2 linked regions of the Homo sapiens genome follow. The protein of the gene in region 1 interacts with the protein of each later gene in a pairwise test. Each region holds a gene or a part of one and is shown in the gene's direction. Other genes may lie near its edges. The genes, in order: DHX9 and ZMAT3.

What was found.
Region 2: the proteins of DHX9 (region 1) and ZMAT3 interact in binary tests that used the Homo sapiens proteins (3 or more experiments, as listed by UniProt).

Annotation. Positions count from the first base shown.
Region 1 is NC_000001.11:182,845,592-182,849,415, forward strand, and holds part of DHX9 (ATP-dependent RNA helicase A), read left to right. Parts: intron 1-3,824. UniProt on the Homo sapiens protein: Multifunctional ATP-dependent nucleic acid helicase that unwinds DNA and RNA in a 3' to 5' direction and that plays important roles in many processes, such as DNA replication, transcriptional activation, post-transcriptional RNA regulation, mRNA translation and RNA-mediated gene silencing.
Region 2 is NC_000003.12:179,023,104-179,026,927, reverse strand, and holds part of ZMAT3 (zinc finger matrin-type protein 3), read left to right. Parts: intron 1-1,699; coding exon 1,700-1,911; 3' UTR 1,912-3,824. UniProt on the Homo sapiens protein: Acts as a bona fide target gene of p53/TP53. May play a role in the TP53-dependent growth regulatory pathway. May contribute to TP53-mediated apoptosis by regulation of TP53 expression and translocation to the nucleus and nucleolus.

The DNA of each region.
Region 1 (3,824 bases):
TGACACTACCTGGAGATAGCGTCAGACTCCACAGGGTGAGGACTCAGTCCCACAAGACTCCCCAGCCCCTTCAGACACCACTTGCAAGTCTGGGCCTCTAGAACTTCTGACTGACTAGCTTCAAGTTATGGTTTTCATGACTGCCTCTTTGGGGTCAGTTAATTTGCTAGTGTGGCTCACAGAACTCAGGAAAACCTACATTTACCAGTTTATTATAAAGAATACTACAAAATACAGTTGGTGAAATAAGTAGGGCAAGATATGGCGGAGGCAGCAGGGAGCTCCCATGCCCTGCCTCGAACACCATTCTTCAGGAACCTCCACCTGTTCGGCCATTTGGAAGCCCTCCAAACCCTGTCCTTTGGTTTTTATGGAAACTTCATTATTCAGTATTGATTAAATCGTTGGCCATTGGTGACTTGACCTTCAGCCCTTCTCACTTCCCCAGAGGCTGGGAGGTGGGACCGAAAGTTTCAGCCCTCTAATCTTTCCTTGGTGGTTCTGGTGACCATCCCCCCACACCTGAAGCTACCTAGGGCCTGCCAGCCAGCAGTCAACTCGTTAGCATACAGAAAGTCTCCACTTAGGAGATTATAAGGATTTAGGATTTCTATGCCAGGGAAATGGGATTGAAGACCAGATGTACTTTTTTTTTTTTTTTTTGAGATGGAGTTTCGCTTTTGTTGCCCAGGCTGGAGTGCAGTGGCATGATCTCGGCTCACCGCCACCTTTGCCTCCGGGTTCAAGCGATTCTCCTGCCTCAGGCAGGAGTATCTGGGATTACTGGCATGTGCCGCCATGCCCGGCTAATTTTGTATTTTTAGTAGAGACGGGGTTTCTCCATGTTGGTCAGGCTGGTCTCCAACTCCCAACCTCAGGTTATCTGCCCGCCTTGGCCTCCCAAAGTGCTGGGATTACAGGCGTGAGCCACTGAGTCCAGCCAGAGACCAGATAGGCTTTAAAGATAATATGACACTGTCTACTTGCTGTTTTCTGTAAGAAGTCAGCTATAATCAAATCACTCTCTCCCATATGTAATGTGGTAGTCTGTGTTTTTAAGATCTTTTCCTGTTATTTTTGGTTTTTAGTATTTTGTGTTGTGACCGGGCATGGGTTTTTTTGTATGTGTGTGTTCTAACTTGTTCAAGGTTTGCTGAGATTATTGAATCCATAGATTTATGTATTTCACCAACTTTGAGAGACTTAGCTATTATTTAAGATATTTTTTGTTTTATTTTTTCTTCTTTCCTCTTGGTGTTTATATTTATAAAGACTTGATATCCCACAGGTCCCTGAGGCTCTCTTTTTTTTTTCCTATCATTTTTTCCACTGTTTCTCAAATTGAATAATTTTTATTGATTATCTTCAGATTCTTTGATAGTTTTTTCTGTCCCTTCCATTTTGCTAAGCCCACCCAGTGTATTTCAGACACTACCTTTTTCACTTTTAAAATCTCCAGCTTATTCTTTTCTGTATGTTTTCTCTGGTGGCATTTCTTTTCATTCGTTATAAGTGTATGTTTGTAATATAAATATGGATTTCTTTTATGTCATGAAGCTTAATTCTAATAGCTGCTTTAAAATCCTTGCCTACTACTACTAACATCTGAGTCATCTCAGGGTTGGATTCTCTTGATAGGTATATTTTCTTGAGGTTGGATCACATTTTCCTCTTTGTGTATCAAATAATTTTTTATTGCATTCTGGGCATTGGAATATTATGCTGTGGAGACTCTGAATAATGTTATACTCCTCCAAAGAGCATTGATTTGGTTTTTTTGTTTTGTTTTGTTTTGTTTTTAATCAGGCATTTAATTTAACTGGACTCAAACTGCAAATGCTGTCTTTTGGATGTTAACTCAGATCTCACCTCAGTTTTCTGATCATTTAGGACAGCCATGGAAGAGTCCTTCAGGTCTCCTTTGCTGGGCAGCTTGGAATCTGCCCTGTACATGAGTGGTTTTCAAGGGTTAGCCAGAGATTTCAATATACAGAATTCGGGGCTCCTCCTCTCTGGCTGTTTCCTTTCCAGCATTCCCTCACTTTCTAGCAGCTTTGCTTTCCCTGAACTCTAATTCTGATTCTTCAGGCCAAAAAGATGGTTTCATTGGAGGTTTAGCTGCCTGGGATGGCTTCTCTCAGGCTAAAAGCTACAGTAAACTGGAATTAGACCCTTGATACTCCGTGCTTCCCCATTTTAACTTCTCTCAAGAATCTACCTGCTTTTTTCGTTCATTTTTTATTGCCTGCATATAGTTCTGGTGTGTTGTGTGTGTGTTTGTATTTTTTCCCCCTAAAGTTTATTTTACCTGCAGGAGGGTCAGTCTTACAGGAACTTACTTGGCTACAACCAGAAGTAATCCCCTAGGTGATTTTTTTATTATTGTTTTAACATGGCTCAGGTGTTTCCTATTAAATGCTCTGTGGATTTCCTACTTTCTTCCTTATTTCCTCTGTTCCAGCTACAGTAGCTGTACTTCTTCATAGGTCTTCAAATAAGCCCTCATCTTTCTGCCTCAAAACTTCTATACCTGAAGGACTCTTCCCCAGCTGTCCTATTTAACATTATAAACATTGTCACCCTCAGGTTACTTCCTAAACTCCTTCAATGCTTTATTTTTCTCCGTAACACTTACTTTTTAACTCAGTGTTTCTCAACTGGAGACCATTTTGTCCCCTCAAGGGATGTTTGGGGATGTATGGAGATATTTTTGTTGTTGTAACTCGAGGAGGCCACTGACATCTAGAAGGTGAAGGCCAGGGATGCTGCTAATGACCTACAATGCACTTGACAAACTCCTACAACAAAGAATTAACCAGCCTAAAATGTCACCAAGATGAGAAACCTTGTTCCAACGTAATTTATTTTTGTTTCATTGTATTAGAATGTAAGTTCGTGAGGGCAGGGATTTTTTTGTTTTTAGTTCGTTGCTGTGTCTCCAACATTTAGAATGGTTCCTGGTCTATAGCAGATACTTAAATGTTTTTTGGTTGACTGAGTAAATGAATGGATGAATTTGGAAAAAAAAATTATAACAACCCATTTCTACTTTTAACCCCACTGTATTATTAGTCCATTCTTGCATTGCTATAAAATACCTGAGACTGCATAATTTATAAAGAAAAGAGATTTAATTGGCTCACAATTATGCAGGCTTTACAGGAAGTGTGGTACTGGAATCTGCTTGACTTCTGAAGAGGCCTCAGTAAACTTAGAATGATGGCAGAAGGTGAAGGGGAAGCAGGGATGTCCTACATAGCAGGAGCAAGAGAAAGTAAAGGGGAAGATGCCACACACTTTTAAATGACCAGATCTCATGAGAACTCACTCACTGTTGCTAGGATAGCAGTACCAAGGAAAGTGGTACTAAACCATGCATGAGAAACCCACCTCATGATCCAGTTACTTCTCACCAGGCCCTACCTCCAACATTGAGGATTAAAATTTGACATGACATTTGGGCAGCGATACGTAACCAAACTGTTACCAGCTACCATCTTTATCTTACCTCCTCATTCTAGGGAAATCCTTTTTCATAATCACTTATTTCATCTGGAACTTACCCTTTCATGCCATAAATTGCATTTGCCAAAAGTGAGCATGTAGAGGATATTTTAAAATTTTTTTTGCTGTGGACAATTGTAGATGTGTATAAAAGAATAATATAGTGAAACTCCATGTTTCCGTCATCTGGCTGCAACACTTTCAATTTTACTCATTTCTAACTACTCCCCTTTCTTAGATTATTTTGGAGCATCCCAGACATCTTATTCATCTGTTAATATTTCAGTTTTTAACTAAAACATAATTCTTTTTTTAAAAAA
Region 2 (3,824 bases), on another chromosome or scaffold:
TTCTGATATACACATTTAGTTCACAAACACTGATTTATAGGAATAAATTCTGCATTTTCTGATTGTCTTCAGTAGGGAGAGTGGGCTGAGTAGTCCCTCACCCTCCCCTCTACTTCAGCCTCTGATTCATGCACATGCCAGCAGAGGTCATTTACTTGAACAGTGAAACAAATAGAAAACAGAGCTAACTGAAAAGCCAGAGAAGCCTACTAAAAAAAGGACATATAGAAAGCACAATTCAGGCCAGGCTCCTGTGGCTCGTGCGTGTAATCCCAGCACTTTGGGAGGCTGAGGTAGGTGGATCACCTGAGGTCAGGAGTTCGAGACCAGCCTGGCCAACACGGTGAAACCCCGTGTCTACTGAAAATACAAAATTAGCTGGGCATGGTGGCATACGCCTGTAATCCCAGCTACTTGGGAGGCTGAGGCAGGAGAATCGCTTGAACCTGGGAGGTGGAGGCTACAGTGAGCTGAGATTACACCACTGCATTCCAGTCTGGGTGACAGAGCAAGACTCTGTCTCAAAAAAAAAAAAAAAAAAAAAAAAAGCACAATTCATTATGATTAAGAAAAGTCTAAACATATATTAATAATTGTAATAAATGTAAAATTACCAAAGTCCAAAAAATGTTAAATTGGATGAAAGAAATCCATCTGAAATGAAAGAAGCTGGGATAGCTGTATTAATATCAGAAAAATAAATTTTAGGATAGATTATGTTCTCTGACCAGAGTACAATGAAATGAGATGTCAACAACAAAAATAGAAAAGCAAACAAAATTTCCATTTGTTTTCCAATTTAAAAACACTTCTAAATAACTCATGGTTCAAAGAAACAATTATACTGGAAATTAAAAATTCCTACAGTGAAACAGTAATGAAAATATATTAACACTTGTAGGATGCAGTGAAAGCAGTATTTTGAGAAAAGTATTACCTATATATTATTATAGTGGAAGTGAAAAGCATAAAGTTAACGAACTAAGCGTCCAGCTTATGAGGTCAGTAATGTAAAAAGAAGAAAATGAAATGATCAGTAATGTCACCAACACTTTTGCAGATTTCATTCTAGTCTCTTCATATGTATGACTTCTTTAAAATAGAAATGGGATCCTAGTTTGGGATATTCATAGTTTACTTAATAGCGTAAGAGTTTTCTATAGCATTATTATATTTAGCAATGGCATAGTTTTCCATTGCATTCATTACCATACTTTCTTTAATCCTATTTTTGAATCTCTTCTTCCCCCTAAATTTTTGCTTTTATAATCACTGCTGAGATAAACATATTGCTATTAAATCTCAGTGTGAAAATTCTTAGTATTTTCTTAGGATAATTCTTACAAGTAGAATTTTTGGATTAAAGGGTTAGCATAAGCATAAGACTTCTGATATAATGCTTGGAAATTAAAGTATTTTTAAAAGCGTATTCACTTTTTTAGAGACACAGCCATTTGGAATTTGGGTTTGGCTCTACAGCAATTTTTCTGACAATGGTTGGAGGAATCATTTTATCTTTTTAGATCGAACCTGTGTAAAATTGTAATTTTAAAAATCCATTAACTTCACATTCACTTAAAGCTAAGAATCTGTGAATTTTATAATTTGAACTTAGAATTACAAATTACAGTGATAATTGGTCAGGTTGTCATTCACTTAATGAATATTTTGAATATATTATTTTTATCTCTTGCTTTAGCAGGTCCTTACTTCAATCCCCGCTCTCGGCAGAGAATTCCACGTGATCTGGCCATGTGTGTTACTCCAAGTGGCCAGTTTTACTGCTCAATGTGTAATGTTGGAGCTGGCGAAGAGATGGAATTCCGGCAGCATTTAGAGAGCAAGCAACATAAGAGCAAGGTGTCTGAACAGCGGTACAGGAATGAGATGGAGAATCTGGGATATGTATAGTGATTATCATATTAAGATAGAGCAGCTTTTCCTGCCTGTTGTTTGCCTTTTGTCAACTTGCCCTGCTTTGTGGTCTTTTTGATATGAGTACATTCCTCTGCTTAATGTTAATACATGTAACCCACAGTGGTACCATGAGATGTCAAAACCTGGGGGCCCGGGGGCGGGGCGGGGGGAGGTGGGTGTGAAGAACGTGCTTCTTAGGTCATAACGCTTTTGCAGGGTCAATGGTGTTGAGCCGCTCATAGCATGTGACCTACCTACCCCATCAGAAATAACTTTTTATCTTGCTCAAGTTCTGGTCAACTAGTAGCCTGACGGCTTAGAACTTTGACTATTTAAAAGTTTCATTTTCTTTTGCAATTTTAGTTTTATGTACTGTTAAAGAATTGTACTGAATTCTTTTTAGATCACAGTAAAAATAGGTTGGCAGAGATTTCAGTTTCCCAGGGCTTAACCAGAACCGCCACCTCAATGCATTGTCAGTAGAATACATTATTAGAAACTGTTAAGGTCTTTCCCGGGACATTTTTTTCTGCCATTTTCTTTTGCAATTGTAGTTTTATGTACTGTTAAAGAATTGTATTGAATTCTTTTTAGATCAAAGTAAAAATAGGTCAGCAGAGATTTCAGTTTCCCAGGGCTTAACCAGAACCGCCACCTCAATGCATTGTCAGTAGGATACATTATTAGAAACTGTTAGGGTCTTTCCCAGGACATTTTTTTTTCTGTATCATGTCTCCCCATCATTGAAGCGCAAATTTTCTTGAATTCAAATACTCCCAATGAGCTTGTATACTTCCAAACAGCTAAACTTGATTTCCAGTTGTGGATTTCACACATATAATTGCCGCCTTCTTCCCTCCTCTTTTTTCCCCCCTAGTTGAATCAGCTTGTCTAACAAGCCCATTTTCATGCCCCAGCTGTGCTGTGGGTTTTCCAAGCCTCATATTTGAATATTCAATGAGTTTAAGATGGATATGATTTCAAAAAATAGGGCCGGGCGCGGTGGCTCACGCCTGTAATCCCAGCACTTTGGGAGGCCGAAGCAGGCGGATCACGAGGTCAGGAGGTCGAGATCATCCTGGCTAACACAGTGAAACCCCATCTCTACTAAAAATACAAAACATTAGCCGGGCGTGGTGGTGGGTGCCTGTAGTCCCAGCTACTCTGGAGGCTGAGGCAGGAGAATGGCGTGAACCCGGGAGGCGGAGCTTGCAGTGAGCCGAGATCGCGCCACTGCACTCCAGCCTGGGTGACAGAGCGAGACTCCGTCTCAAAAAAAAAAAAAAAAAAAAAAAAAAAATATATATATATATAGATATATTTTCCAGCAGTTTTTAGGAAACAAAGGTGTGTTTGATTTTCCAATTTAGAGTTACTTCATTGATAGTAACATGCGCTTATATCATGATCTAAACCATAAGTTCAGATTGCTTGATATTTTGTTTTGCCAGACTTTTTTGATAATCTGATTCTTACGGTTTACTTACATTTTCCTCTGTCTTGCCAGTCTGGTGGCCATCCTGAAAAATATCACCACCTGCTGTTTTATACACAGAGGAATTTTTTAAAAAGCAAATAAAGTTTCACTATCTTCGTTTCCAGTAGAAATATACACGAACTATGGTTTTATTCTTTGTAATTCGGCTTTCTTGAAGATACTAACAAGTATATGATAGATCACTTTGGCATCTGATAATTATATCAGTATTATTATTTTTGTTTTTTTGCGTTTAAAATAAGAAGTTGTATGAACCCAGGAGGTGGAGGTTGCAGTCAGCCAAGAATCGTGCCACTGCACTCCAGTCTGGGCGACAGAGCAATACTCCGTCTCCAAAAAAAAAAAAAAAGAAGCTATAATATATATCTAGATTAACTAATGGAGTGCTCTGTGAATATTCATTAACTAC